Linked DNA regions of Homo sapiens: regions 1 and 3 are each linked to region 2. Evidence: fine-mapped expression QTL. A gene starts in region 2. Each other region holds a variant in brackets. All regions are shown on one strand. Distances are between the middles of the regions.

Region 1 (5,230 bases), 290 kb after region 2:
GGAGAAAACTCAGGGTTTGTGTGTTAAGAATGAAGTGCTTGCATTCCCTCACCCAGATGCAGTGCAGCAATGGGGTACAGTGGGACCACATTGGAAGGAGGTAAGATTGGTGGCAGGTAGTTAAAAGGTAGCATTGTTTACTGTGGGTCTAATGCAGTATTTCTGGACTGAATGGAATGGAAGTTTTGCCTAACATCTTTTAGAAATTGTTTTCAGGTCTGTTTCAATTCCTAATGTTCTTTTATATAATTTCTGACTCATTTGCTTAATGGTTTCATTTGTGTTTAAAAAAGCAACATCAAACCTTCATTATTTACTTTCCGTGATGCTTTAAATACCACAGAATTCAGTAAGGCCATCAAAGAGACAGAGAGGCCAACATTAAACATTAATTTTTATTACTTTGGCAAAGAATTCTTGAGATAATTCAGCACAGAGGAACCAGTACAGGTCTCTGATAGCTGTACCAAGTGCTGATTAACTCAACCTCACAAAATCTCTTGCCTGTCAACAATTAGTGGAAACATACAGAAATATCTAAATATCCCAAAGATATTGGGGAGATATTTGGAAAGTATATGAAAACATTTAGAAACATCAGAAGTTTGAAAAACAAAGTTTTCCACATATATGAATGAGACTGGGGAAGGGAGTATGGTCTGTTTTCTTCTCACAATTTTATCACCCTGGCAGTTATTGGTGGAGAGAAGGTTCTCAGTAAGCATATGACGTATCTATTACTTTATCTTTACCTTGATTTCTCCATTCCCATAGCTTTAAAAGTCATTAGAGGAGATAAAACAGGGTCATTTATTTTGTATTGTCATATGTATGGATTTAGCAGCATGTGATATCTTTCCTTCCTTCCTTCCTTCCTCCCTCTCTCCTCCCTCTCTGGGTATTCCCTCCTTTCCTTCCTCCCTTTTTCTTTCCAGTATTTAATGACTCCTACTCTATGTCATTGTCTCTTATGACTGAGAGATGCATAAGGCTTAGTCTTGCCCTCAAAAAGCTTACAGTTTTTTGAGAGGTTACACACAAGTAAATGGGCAATTTCAATATAGTATAATAAATATTATGATAGAGGAAGTACACAGTGCCTTTGGGTCATTTAAGGAGAGCACTTAAACTCAGGGAATCAGGAAAGCCTTGTCAGGGGAAGTGCCATCTAATCTGAGTTTTGAAGGACAAGTTGAGTTAGCCAGAGCTAGTTTTCTATGGCTGAGTGGGCCAGATGGGAGGAGCCTGGACCTGAATTTAATCTCCCTGCTGGGGTAAGGCAGGTGTCGGTGGCCACCCCCAGCTTCAGGTGCTCAGATAGAGTCCAGTCCAGTAGTCATAGCATGGTAGCCAAAGGATTTTGCCTTGAGTTCATAATCAAGAAACGCCTCCAGGCCCTGGGGAGCAAGAGAGGAGATAGTAGTACTGGAAGTCTGCCAGACCTTAGACCTTAGGAGAGACACTTGTATGAACATGGTCAAGTGAAATTCTAGTGTCTGGAGACCATGACACAGCTCAGCCTGCACAGGGCTTGGGACGTGAGCTTTGTATGCACAGTGCAGTCCAGGATCCAGCCGACAGTCCAGTTGTTGCCTATACCCGCAGTCAATTGCCATGTTTTTTAGGAAGCCTCTGTCGAGCGACTCTAGAGGTGTTTCTCCCTTCCCTCTTATTACTAAACCTTACAGAAGCTAAGCTTGCTTCTAAGATATCTTTTAGGTTTAATATTCACAGGATTACAGTGTCTGCATTCCTTAGACGCTCCTATCATGCTGTGCTAGTCGGGCACTGTGCTAGGCACAGGGAATGTTGAGATAAAAGGAAGTTGGTTTGTTGTTTAAACTACCCAGATTGTGCATTGTTAAAAATTATTATTTTTTTGGAACTCTTAAAATTTTGTTTTGCCCAAAAAATTACATGACACTTTCCTCTTAGAAATAAGTTAGTTATATAATACAGAAATGTAAAGGCCAAAACATTAATATTTTCCTTCTTTAAATTCTAGCTTCTTTCACCAGCGTTAACAACTGATAACCTTCTCTTGTGTATCTTTTTAGTCCATTTTCTATGCTTGCATATCCATATATAATTGTATCAGTTGAGATTCCAGTAGGAAACAGATGGTACATTCAAATTAGAATAATTTAGACCGGGTGTGGTGGCTTATACCTGTAATTCCAGCACTTTGGAAGGCCAAGGTGGAAGAATCGCTTGAGGCTAGGAGTTTGAGGCTGCAATGAACTAGCATGGTGCCATTACACTCCAGTCTAGGTGACAGAGCAGGACCCTGGTCTCTAAACAACAACAGCAACAAAACCAAATTAGGATAATTGAGGTTTAGTTTAATAAAGGGACTATTTATATGATGTAGAGAGGGTATAGGGAAAGCACAGGGGATCATGATTATCAACCCTAAATCTGAAGGGGC[A/G]CAGAGAGGAAGTGGTCATGGAAACCTGGACACAGAAAGGGTGCTGCAGAAAGGACCCTCTAATGGGCACTGAGACCTGTGATGGAGGGATGCAGCCAGTTCTTAGCAACCACAGGAAAGGGGCTGGGAATAAATGCACTCCTTCCTCTCTGCTTCTAAGCGCCCCCATTGACTGAACCCTATGGGAAGCCAAGGGAACAAGAAAACCTATTGATGTAGTCCATATAGGTCAGCCCCCTTAGCCAGAGAGCTGAGTGGAGAAAGGTGGAGAGTGGATCAGAGGGGCAAACAGAAGGTCTCCAGTACAAATACATACATAGCATATAGTTTTAGGAGCTTTTACTTTCTGTGCTTCCTTGTTACAGAAATGAGATTGTGCTGTAGTACGATTCTGGGACTTTTTGTTAACACAATTTGTCTTGAAGCCTTTTTGCATCAGTATGTATGGATCTAATTTAATTATTTTATTCATTGGCTGCTTAGTATTTCGTCATACAAGGTATCTGAACTTTTTAAAATTATGTATATGTAATAGTTGGTATATACAACAGAATATGTACCACCTATGTGAGTTATGAAGCCTAGCAATAAAACAGTCATCTGTAAATTTATCTCTCAACCTAAGATCACTAATACCATCGACCTTAGTCAATCAAACTACTTGACCTCAGATCATCAGGCAATCAGGCATTAGTTAGAATTACCTAAGGAGCATGCATGTGCAGTTCACAATAGGGTTTGGGTTTCTATGAGAATCTAATGCTGCCACTAATCTAACTGACAGGAGGCAGAGCTCAGGCAGTAATGCTCACTTCCTGTTGTGCGGCCATATTCCTAACAGGCCACAGACTGGTACCAGTATGCTAGCTGGGGGTTGGGGACCCCTGCTATACAGTCTTCCTGTGTCCCCTCACCCCGCCAATGCTAGTCTGAAGTTTTTTGTGTTAATTCTCTTATACTTTTTAAAAATAGTTTTTCCATATTATGAGTATGTTGAAACAATATATTATATAGTTACTTTTTAAAAAGCTTTATAAAATTGCCGTTTTAGTTGTACATAGTCTTTTACAATTTGCTTTTTTAACATAGCATTCATATTGCAGTGTGCAGCTGTGCTTCATTTATTTTCATAGCTTATAACACTCCATTGTGTGAATATGCCGCAATTCACCTCTCCATTCTACTGTTGATGGACTTTTGGGTCATTTCCAGTTTTTGCTGTTTCAAACAGTGCTGCTTATGAACATTTTTGTCCGTGTCTCCTGGCACATACATACAAGAGTTGCTCTAGGGTATATACCTAGGAGTGGAATTTCTGGGTCACGAGGTTTACACATACTTGGCTTTGCTAGGTAATGCCAAATTGTTTTCAATGGGATTATGCCAATTTACATTCCCATTAGAAGTATGTAAGAATTCTGGTTGTTCCTTTTCCTCCTTAGTGCATGGTATTTGCAGAAGGCTTAACTTTTTACCATCAATACTCTTTTCAGGGATACCAAGCAAAAACTTAATGAGAGTCTGACTCTGTTATCATAATAAATATTTTTCTACTTTTCTCTGTAAAAATGATTTTCTCTTTCTTGCCCTATTTTTTTTGCCTCATTGTTCCCTAAGTTTATGTCATCTACTAATAAATTATATTTAAAAATAATTAATACATTAAAACAAATCTGCCAAATGGGCCTTTCAATTCTTTCCAACTCTAAAATAAATGTAATTCTAGTAGAAATCCATATACAAATCATGGTTCATAAAACTGAAGGTTAACATTGCTACCATATGGAGAAGTTAGCTCACATACAAAAAGAGAAAACCATCAGTTCTCCAAATATTTCTTTTTACCAAATTTGACTTTAACAGCAAACTGGATTGTGTGTACTCTTGAAAGGAATAGTGCTCCATCTTGCTCTCCCTCTCTTTCTTCATCCTTCCTTAGTTTTGTTCTTTCTTTCTTTGCTTCTTTTATGTATTCATTCACTGATTCACTAAAACCCAGTGGAGAAGACAAATGAATTATTACTGTGTAGCCTGCAAATGGGATGATGAGGAATGGACAGATGTCTTTTGGAGTGAGAGAAGGAAACTTGACTTCTGTATTTCTTGAGTTCACTTCAGTTCTTAAGATAAAGTAGGTTCTACTGAGTATTTGCTAAATGAATGAACAAATCAATACTCTAAAATGTTTTCAGCTTTTTACTCATTGTAGTGTAGGAAGAGCTACATGGAGTTGAATTTCTATCAACTAGCCCATCTTTTATTACTGGAGTTAGTCTTCTTTGGTAATTTAATACTCAGAGTACCTCATATGATCTCTTTATCGATGCCTTCAGGAGACATTAAACGTTCTATCAATTAATTATACTTAAAAAGAATACCTTTTGGATTCATTCAAGCACTTCATCTTCTTTCCCCAAATCTTGGGAACTGGTGTCAGCTCCTTAAAATGAGCCAGCATGCTTTTTCACCCTCCCATATAAGTAAGAGCTTGTAATCACCCAGTGTTTCTCTGACCTAGAAAAGCTGAGAAATTCACATAAATGAAAACACAGGGGCTTACAAAATTGCTTTCGGCCCTCTCCCTTAGAAGCATATCTGGCACTTGGTAACTGGCTGGATGGAATGTGGGTACTACATGGAGTGCCCTGGTGCTGCTGCTGCTGCTGCTGCTGCTAGGCTTATATAACTTTGAAATCAGAAAGCAGATTCAGTGGGGTAGGGGAGAACTGCTTTTAACAAGCTGCTGGGATTGGCTGAACTTGTGCTGGCCTTGCACTCTTACTATTATAAACTTGATGTCTT
Region 2 (5,230 bases):
GGTCTTAACTTGTGGGGTGTCATGTAAGTGGGGCCTGAAGAATGGTATTGCTTGGCTCCCTGGATTCAGCCCCCTTCCTACAGATGGATTTCCTGCCTTGCTGATGATTGTGGCCAGAGTATGTAAAACTTCTGGGCCTCTTTGTATGTGCCTGAGTGGCTGCTCTGTCAAGACAACACACAGCTCTGTGTATCAGACTCAAGGCCCTGGTGGTGTGGAGTCATGAGGGGGTCTCTTGATCCACAGGTTGCAAAGATTCATGGGAGAAGCATGGTTTCCTGGGTTGCACAATCACTCACCACTTCCCTTGGCTGAGGGTGGAGGTTCCTTTGGCTCTGTGCTGCTCCGAGGTGGGCTCCCCACCCTGCCCAACTTTTCTTCATTCTCCATGGGCCGGTGGTTTGCCTAGTCAGTCCCAATGAGAGAACCTGGATATTTCAGTTGAAGGTACTGAATTCACTTGCCCCTTCTCATTCCTCCCTGAGTGCTGCGGGCAGGGGCTTCTAATTGGCCATTATGGATTGATCTCCCTGCAGTGAAGTGTTCTAAGTAGGAAGAACACATGGTATTGTGGAAAATCAACATAGCATGGTGGCTCAGAAATAGATTCTGGAGCCAGGCAGGTTGCTTGGTTTGGAATTCTGGTCCTGCAACTTACTGCAACCTCTCTATGCCTTAGTTTCCTCACAGTTTAAAGAGGGATAAAATAATATCTATAGGTCTATTTGCGAGGTTTTAAAATTCTTGGAATAGTACCTGGCTCATTATACATGCTATAGAAATGCTTATTCAATTAAATAAATAAAAGCATCTTTGGTAAGATAACTCTGAACATTGTATGGTTTAGTAGAGGATGCTGACAAGAATAAATAATTAAAACATATCATGAAGTAAGCATAAAAGATAGTGGTAATGCAAAGATGCGAATGAGCTCTGCTTCCTGTGATTAGTGTGAGCAGACAAATTCACTGTACTCAGAAGCTTAAAGCCTAGCGTGGGAAGCTGACATGAATGAAAACCAACGGGAAAAAATGTTAGAGTAGAGGTGTAAGCAAGAGTGATTAATTTCAACTTGAAAGCAAATGGGGGAGGTTTCACAGAGAGGGGCCCAGCATGTTGGTTGATTGCTTGGGCTCCAGAATCAGGCCAGCTCAGTTTAATGCTGACTTTGTACCTCACTGGTTTTGTGACTTGACCTCTCTAATCCTCCATCTCCTTATCTGTACAGTGGGGGGAAATAATAATGATAATAATAGGTAGCTCATAGGACAAATAAGAATTCACAGTTAATGCATCAAAAATCTTAGCACAAGGCACTCAATAAATGTGAAGCTTTTATTGTTATTACGAGTTGAAACTTGAGTGGGAAAGAACTTCGTTCACATTAAACATGAGAAAAGGCCCAGAAGTTGAAAAGCATTTGACATAATTAAAGAACAGCAAGTCAGTGCCACTTAAACGGTAATCCAACCACCGCCAGTCAGTGAACAGCTTTTTACTGCTCCATGAACAGGTAAGTATAGAAATTGTGAGTAAGCATTTAGAAATAAAAACAACAACAACAACCAATAATTGAAAAACTAATTTTATACTTTTTGGCATACTCATTGTACACTTGTAATAAAAACTGGGCTTGTAGTTTTTGTCTCTTTTCTTATTTGCTAGCAGGTTTTGATTTGTATTTTACAGAAATAATGGTCCATGTCAGATTGGAAATAATAAAAACTTGTCTTTTACCCTTGATAGTTTGAGAAAAAAGTAATTCAGTGGGGTTAGATATGGCATCCGAGAGATGATTCGGGAAAGGTGGGCCAGGGCCATGTTTATGTGGACCCTCCAATGCCTCAGAGTTCACACTTGTTTCAGTGGGCAACAGGACTAGTAAGGTTTAGAGGGACTGTTAACCGAAGGTGAGTGGACTTTGCACATTTTATGGTATTTTTTTTTTCCCAGTAGGCATGTGCTTATTCTTTCTTTTCTTTTCTAATTAAAAGTTCTGTTTGGTTTTTTTAGTTAAGAGGAGAGACTGGAACTGCTCAGTGTTTCACAAAGATAACTGTTTGTATTTGATAAGAGTTTCGTTAAACAAAGGAATTTGCACTTATCAAAACATAAAGCATTGAAAACACTGAGCACATACTCTGTGACCAGAATGCGTGTGACTTGTTGAGATAAGCCACACCGGGTAATCAGATGAGTCTCCTTTCTTCTTGGGCACCCTCATATAATTCAGGCACAAACGAAAGAGAAAACGCTTTTTCTGATCTCTCAGTTCGGGTCATCTCTGCCTTCCATCATCACCGCCTAACAATCCTACACCTGGCAGGGTGGGAAAACGGTTTAATAATCTCTTCCCTTTGGGAGGCGTTTGACAGCTCAGAAAGCATGGCCTTTACTCAGGCTCAGAGACACACAAAAACCTTTCACGTTTTCCTTTCAGCTTCGCAGCCCCGTCCTTCTCCACCTGCACGGGCACCCACTGAAGCACAGGACCCTTCTGCCAAGCCATGAGCCTTCTCAGGCCCCTGCCGCCCGCCTCGCCTGAGGCTGCGCTTCTGAAAAGCACGCGGCCCTGGCCTGCGCACCACCCAGTCTGAAGGCGACGCCCCTGCACGAAGGAGTCAGGCCTAGGGGCTCGGGACCCAGGGCGACACTCAATTTTCTAACAGGAGCCACAGCCCAGAAGCTGAGAAGCCTTCCGGCCGATCTGTGGCCCTGAGGTCGCCCTTGGAGGGCGAGTGAGAACCCCCCAGGCGTTCCGGAGGTGGCCCCCAGCCCGAACCCGGCGCCCGCCCCGGCTTCCCGAGTCAGGTCTTTGCCCCGCCTCTCGGCCCCGCGGCCTGGCCGGCAAGCAGGGCTGCAGTCACGGGGCGGCGCGGAGGGCCCCAGCCCAGTCAGGGGTGTGGCCGCCGCCACCGTAAGGCTAGGCCGCGAGCTTAGTCCTGGGAGCCGCCTCCGTCGCCGCCGTCAGAGCCGCCCTATCAGGTGTGTTTGCAGCCGAACTGGCAGTGCCCGCGGGCGGCTGGGCCGAGGCCTTGGCTCCTACCCGCGGGGGTCGGGCGGGCTGAGGCTGGAGCAGGCCAGGGGCGGGGGCAGAGGGGGACGGACTTCCAGCATCGCTCATTCGGGGGCGTGACGGGAGGACCTGGCTGGGGAGCGGCGGGTTGGGAGCCTGTGGCTGCCCCTTCGGTGACAGTGGAGTCACCGAGCCTAGAAATGGGGAAGCTGTGACGTGGGGGTGGTGGAGGGTGCTGCGGGACAGCAGCGAGCACGGCCCTCAGCCGTCCTTCCCAACACGGTTTCACTTCCCCTCAGCTCCAGGGCTCAGCCCCAAGCCGCCCCCTTCATCCCCCATCTGCAAACAATCCTGGTCCCCCTGAGCCTCCAATATGCCTTATGCAGTTCTTTTGGGGTTCCTTTCGCATTTTACCGTGTACTTTCGCTTTTGATGCGTCTAGTTTCTGCTACTGGACTCTCCTAGAATCGAAGTTCCATGAGGGCAAAGTCCCATCTGACTTAGGACTCAGAGCTACTCAATAAGTAATTGAATGAGTACCTATGCCGTAGAACTGAGTGAATTAACAAATGAGTAAGTGAATAAATGAGTGCATACGAGATACAGCTGAATCAATCAGTGCATGAGTGAAAATAAAGATGTATGAAGTGGAAGCAGTGGAGACGCAGGCTTACAACTCCTGTTTTTTGATAGCTTTCCAAAAAGTTGTGTGAATGTCGCACTTTTGCAAATGGAGGCATTCTGATTGGGACCACTTAAAAAGAGTTCTATGCTGTTCAAATGGTCTCTGGAAACGCCCCCTGGTATTTCCATTTTTGTTGGACTTGGCTATATGTGTTTGCTTAAAACAAAATATGCCTAGGTTTTTTCTTGCTTGTGTTTTGTTCACTTCTACTTTGGACGTTTAAAGAATCATTGTCACTATAATATTATTTCATGTATTTCTTAAAGATAAGGGTGACTCTGAAGGCAGAACCATATGACTCTGACTTGTTTGTAAAACCAGGCTTTTCTTTTGAATTCAGAGTTGTTAAGAATCTTGTCTGTTTTCCTGAGACAGGTGCTGGCTGATTTGCAGGTGACTGAAGAAGGCTACATAAGGCCCAGAAAGACGCTTATCTGTTTGTAAACAAATAGGCTTAGCACATAGCTTTAATACAGTTGGTCACTGCAGCCGTTCTTACTTGCCAGGTCCAGGTTCCAGAAGAGCTGGATGACCTTGGACTTGCCACTTGATCTCTTTAGGTTTTAATTTCTTAATCTCCAAAATGAAGATGTTTAGCTAGGAACCCTGCCTGAGTTAAACCTCTGGGATTCTTTTGTATCAGGGTTAGAAGGTGAAATTACAGATGATTTCATGGAGTTCTGCTTACTTCACCTCCCATAGCATTTTGTCTCTGCTCTCTTCTTTGCTGTTTACAGCTCATTTCCTTTCTTCTCCACATCTGCAACAAGAAAGCCTGGGAGCTCAAGATAAGTGTAATAAACCCTAGGCTGGTGGGGAGAAAGGAGGGTAAGATTTTCTTCTACATTGTCACAGGCTCCTGGTCCTGGGTCTGACTTTTTTCCAGTGCAACCCAGTCTGACAATGCCATATATTCCCAGTATATCTGGGGAACTGCATCACTATTTCTTCGCATGCATTTGAGATTAGTTATCATAGATCACATTTTGGAGCTGGAAGGACCTTGGAGATTTTTTAAAGGCACTTCAAAAGTCATTATACATACATATTTAAATATTTTTGCATGCTACATTTAACAAACACAAAGTTCCAAATGTGTTAAGTAAAATGAAATTAATGTTACCTACTTCAGTGAATTCAAGTTTATAAGGAGAAGTGGAATACACATGTTGCTTGGTGAAAAGGGCCAACTTTCTCACACTGTTTTCCCAATGAGGTCATGTGTCATACAGGCATGGAATGTTACAAAGCTGATATTTATGGGGCACTGACCATACACCAGGCACTGTTATATTTAACCTTTTTACTTATATTGCCCCATTTAATCATCACTATATATCTAAGAGCTAGATACTATGGTAAGTCCTATTTGATCTTCTTAACTAGAAACAGTACATGGAAAATGGGAGAGTTAGGACTCAAAACTCAAGCAGATGGAAACAGGGTTTCTCCCAGAAACAAGACAATCCTGCCAGGAAAAACTGTGTGACTTTGAAGAATGTGGTCTCTGTGTGTGTTCAAGCATATAT
Region 3 (5,230 bases), 410 kb after region 2:
GAAGGAAATTGTTTTTCTTCACCTCCCTTAGTTCAATACAGGTACCTATTTGGATTTTTTCAGTAATTGCTATAATTCCTTAGCCTCTCTTTATCTAAACTATACCCATTAAATTATGTTAACTCTTCTCAAAGCTAAATTGCCTCATCTGTTTATTATTTTCCTCATCTTGCCTGAATATTTTAAAACTTACAAAATATGTGAAGCGATTGTTAAAAATCTAAGTAGTCCCAGGACACATTTATTAGTTACTGTAATTGAGTCTTACTGATTACACATGCATTATAAGCCTCATGATGTGCTAACTTTAGCACAACAAAGATACAGTTTTAAAATATTATATATTTAATATTTTTTAAATTCTATGTTGTCAGTTCAGTTACTGTTGCTCATCTCCTTCTCCTCCTGAGTAATGGCCAAGTTATTTTGGTGAGTCTAACATATGGGAGTCTCATCTTTGATAGCAAAATGATGATGACATATAGTCTACTGAGAATATATTCAGCCCTGTTTTCACCTGAGAAGGAGGAGATTTTGCCACCTAGCCTCCAAAATAAGAGCATCTTATTCCATTATTGAAGGGACCTTTGAAGTTTCACTTGTATTTTGATAATTTATGGCCACTTCTTAAAAAATCACTATCACTCTATATATCCTCCTGGAAAGCATTTGTTTTAGCACTTATAATGGATGTTGTAAACATTTGTATATTATTAAGTGCTTTATAACATACACAGTAAAGATTCAGCTAATAACTTTAATTGTGGAACTGTAGGTTTTCTTGAGAACATTTTTTTAAAAAGGAAAACAGATTCTGAAAAACTGATGTTATTTTATCACCAACATGAGTAACCACATCATCATCATCAACATAATCATTATCTTCACCACCACCACCATCATCCAAAATGGCATCTAGTTACATGCTCGCATGGGTTCACATATACAAATATACACACATATGTGTTTAAACACACACATACATGCATATATTTATTCATTCAGTCAGCACATGTTTACTGAGAGCCTACTAAGTGCCAGGCAGTGTTTTGAGGTCTGCCCTCATCTTGCTTCCATTCTAGTGAATCAAGACTGATAATAAATTGGATAAATAAGTAAAATTGTATGTTAGATGAAAATAACTGCTAAGGAGAAAAATAAAACAGGGAGCAGAGATAGAGTACATGAGGAGGGGGCTGTTTTAATTTTTGATAGAGGGGAACAAGGCAGACTTTATGGAGGTGGTAATATTTGGTTAAGACCTGAAAGGATGAAGAGGAGAGCCACGTGGATACCTGGAGGAGAGCATTCTAGCGAAGATGGAGAGTTGTTCCAAAGGTGCTGCTGGAGGCCATGCTTGACATTCAGGGGATAGGGAGGAAGCCAATGTGCTTGAAATGGAGCAGTGAAAGGAAAGCAGTAGGACAAGAAGTCAATATAAAGAAGCCCAGGCAGAGTCAAGCCCCATGGGCCATTTTCTCTGAGTGAGGTTGGAACTATGGGAGGCTTTTGAGCATAGGAGAAACATGATCTGAATCAACTTTCTAAAATAATCATTCTGGCTGCTTGGTTGAGAACAGACTAAAGGGGAACCAGAATGGAAGAAAGATAATAGCCTAGGCAAGACAAGAGTGTAGTTTGGAACAAGATGATAGCTGTGGAAGGCATAGCAAGTTGTCAGGCTGCAGATAATATTTTAAGGAAGGAGCGAACAGAATCTGATGGTGGATTGCATATGGAGTATGAGAGAAATAGAGGAGTCAAGCATAAACTGACAGTTTGGGGCCCAAACAACTGAAATGAGGGGAGTTAGGCAGGGGGAAAAGGGGGAGATAAGGAGTATGGGTTTGAACCTGTTAAGTTTGAGATATCAGACTTTCATGTGGAGAGGTCAAGTAGGCAGTTTGGTAAAAAGTATAGAGTTCAATGAATTGACATTTCTCAAAAGAAGATATACAAATGGCCAACAAACATATGAAAAAATGTTCAACATCACTAATCATCAGGGAAATGCAAATAAAAACCACAATGAGATACCACCTTACCCCTGGGAGAATGGCCATTATTAAAAAATCAGAAAACAATAGATGTTGTCGTGGATGTGGTGAAAAGGGAACTCATACACTGCTGGTGGGAACGTAAATTAGTATAGCCTCTATGGAAAACAGTATGGAGATTCCTCAAAGAACTAAAAGTATATCTACCATTCTATCCAGCAATCCCACTACTAGGTATCTGCCCAAAGGAAAAGAAGTCATTA[T/C]ATCAAAAAGACACCTGCACATGTACATTTATCACAGCATGGTTCACAATTGCAAAGATATGGAATAAACCTAACTGTCCATCAATAGATAAGTGGATAAAGAAAATGTGTTACATACATACCACGGAATACCACTCAGCCATAAAAGAGTGAAATAATATCTTCTGCAGCAACTTGGATGGAACTGGAGGCCATTATTCTAAGTGAAGTAATTCAGGAATGGAAAACCAAATACCACATGTCCTCACTTATAAGTTGGAGCTAAGCCATGGGTATGCAAAGACAAACAGGGTGGTATAATGGACACTGGAGACTTAGAAAGGGGGAGAATGGCAGGTGAATGAAGGATGAAAAACTACCTATTGGGTATAATGTATACTATTCGGGTTACGGGTGCACTAAAATCCCAGGCTTCACTGCTATACAGTGCATCCATGTGACCAAAAAACCACTGTACCCCTAAAGTTATTGAAATAACAAAATGTTTTAAGTATAGAGTTCAGGGGGGAAGTCTACAGATAGCCATAGGCATGGAGTTTTCTTCATATAAATGCTCCATCTGAATGGAAAATAATAGTTACCCTCTCACAACACCCCTGTCCCCCTGTCCAATGGAAGCTCAGCTTCTATGTTTTCAATGCTGTGATTGTTGGTTTTGCTCTCCAGGGAATATAGTGCCCTTAGAGGCTCTGTCTCTTCATCTTGAAGATCCCCTGGTCCTAGGGTCTGGATTCTCCACAAGCCTCCTTTATCACATCATCATGATCCTCACTGGAATCAGTCTCTCTGAACTGTTTTCTTCCTCCTCCTGATGTCTCACTCCCCTCTCTCCTTTCTCCAGGGCTATTGTTGCCACCAGTTCCTAAAGCCATTGGTTGCACCACCTTTCCTTCAATAAGTCAGCTGATGTAATTGGATAGAGATGGTTTTGTGGCTAACTTTTTCAGCCTTTTGAGGTTCAAGTCCATATTCTGTAGACAACTTGAGGCTTCTTTAGTCATAAAGCCAAATAAATAATAACTCAACTCTCACCTTCAGATTCTCCCTGACCAAGATCATTTCTCCCATTTTCTAAATAGGCTGAAGGAAGGCAAGGGCTGAAACGGAGACAGGATGCTACTGCAGTACTCCACGTGAAGGCTGGTGGTCGCTTGGACTGAGTCAGAACAGGGAAACTGATGGGAAGTTGTCGGAGAGTAAGTCTATGTTGAAAATAGAGCCAACAAGATTTGTTGATAGATTGCATTTTGGGTGTACAAGCAAGAGAGGAGTTCCAGAAGAAACCAACTCTACCAGCACCTTGATTTTAGCCCTGTAAGGCTTATTTCAGACTTACAACCTCCAGAACTGTTAGAGAATAAATTTTTAGGCCGGGCACAGTGGCTCATGCCTATAATCCTAGCACTTTAGGAGGCCAAAGTGGGTGGATCACCTGAGCCCAAAAGTTCAAGACCAGCCTGGGCAACCTGGCGAGACTTTTCCTCTATAAAAACACAAAAAAATTAGCTGGGCGTGGTGGTGCACCTGTAGTCCCAGCTACTCAGGAGACTGAGGTGGGAGGATTGCTTGAGCCTGGGAAGCCAAAGCTGCAGTGAGCCAAGATCATGCCACTGCACTCCAGGCTTGGTGACAGAGTGAGACCCTATCTCAAAACACACACACACACACACACACACACACACAAATTGTGTTGTTCAAGTCAGTGACTTTGTGGTAATTTGTGACAGCAGCAATAGGAAACTAATACACAATTAGACATCTAAGTGGAGGTACTGAGTAGCTGTGGGATATGAGTGTAGAATTCAGGAGATGCATGAAAATATGAATTTGGAACTCATCACCATACAGATTTATTTAAAACCATGAGCCTAAATAAGGGTTCCAACACAGTAAGTGTGATAGAGAAAAGAAGAGGCCTTTAGTCTGTTTCTGAGCACCCCAATTTCTATTGGTCAGGAGGATGAGAAAACCAGCCAAGAAAAATGAGAAGGATCATCCAGTAAAGCATAAAAAGAGCCAAGAGTCTGAGGTTCCAGAAGCCAAGGCAAGAATGCATTTCCAGGAGTAAACAAATGTCAAGTGCAGCTCCATCACAGGTTTGAAATTTGGTGCTCACTAATGGTTTCCACTTTAAATTTTTTGCTAATGCCTACAAAAATTCTAGGAGGGACAACCAATGTTTGAGAGTGAGATACTCTACAGAACATGCTTATATTTATCCTTTTAGAGATTGCCTAAGCTCTGATCCTCTCTTGGAAAGCTACATTCTGGACATTAGTTGGATGCTTAGAATAAAGTCATCTGTTCATTTGACAAGTATTTTCAAGTGCCCGTTAGCTAGGTTCTGAGAATATGCTGATGAACTAACAAGATCCCTGCTCTCATGGGAACACTTTCAGTCTAGGGTATTTGCTGAGGCCAAACATCACCTCTTTTATCAAGCTTTTGCCAACATTTTTCAGTAGTTGCTTTCCCTTCTTTGTACATATTCATAGAACTCATCACATTTAATGTATTAGCCAGTTATTGCCTCTGCTGGTAAACTCTCCCCTCCTTTAGGAAAGCAACCCTATCTTAGTCATCTTCATATATAGATACCCTCATATGTAGGTTGGAAATATGATTTATTATTAAAACCAGGAAATGTCTGCAAGAGAAAGGAGGCTCTGTTAATTAACACCAAGACAGGGGATGTAAACTGGGACTTCCTAGGGCAAACAAAAATGTATAGTCACCCTATCACTCAAGTTTACGTCAAAATAACTGTTGAATAAATACATTTTGCTTCCTGAAAAAACACATTTACTGAAATGTGACTTAATATTTTGCTTTTGGCTTTAATTGAGGATCAATATGTAAGAAATAGTGTTAGGAAAAGTGTTTCTGCATCTTTTGTAAAACTGTTATTGGAGACTGTGTCCATTATTTTGTCCAGCGTTCCTCATATAAAGAGCCATGTAATTACTCCCC

Direction of the effects. Positions count from the first base shown, and alleles are read on the strand shown. Sizes are in standard deviations (SD) of each study's normalised expression. Not every link is listed here.
With allele T in place of C in region 3, the expression in subcutaneous fat of the gene that starts at base 2,825 in region 2 is lower (moderate effect, 0.43 SD a copy in GTEx).

What was found. PIP is the estimated chance that this variant, and not a neighbour inherited with it, causes the effect.
Region 1: its variant is fine-mapped to the expression of CPQ in whole blood (TOPMed, PIP 0.97).
Region 3: its variant is fine-mapped to the expression of CPQ in subcutaneous fat (GTEx, PIP 0.96). The same link has a PIP of 0.9 or more in sun-exposed skin and tibial nerve.

Annotation. Positions count from the first base shown.
Region 1 is chr8:96,936,103-96,941,332 of GRCh38, forward strand. The region is part of intron 4 of CPQ (carboxypeptidase Q); the gene reads left to right. Among named protein-coding and RNA genes, the nearest start is that of CPQ, 290 kb to the left of the region's middle. The variant A/G (reference allele first, on the strand shown) is at 2,429.
Region 2 is chr8:96,642,418-96,647,647 of GRCh38, forward strand. It overlaps CPQ (carboxypeptidase Q), which reads left to right and starts at 2,825. Exons shown (of 8, transcript NM_016134.4): 1 at 2,825-2,985. RefSeq lists a silencer at 2,700-3,249.
Region 3 is chr8:97,052,190-97,057,419 of GRCh38, forward strand. The region is part of intron 6 of CPQ (carboxypeptidase Q); the gene reads left to right. The region is part of intron 2 of LOC101927066 (a long non-coding RNA gene); the gene reads right to left. Among named protein-coding and RNA genes, the nearest start is that of TSPYL5, 220 kb to the right of the region's middle. The variant T/C (reference allele first, on the strand shown) is at 2,261.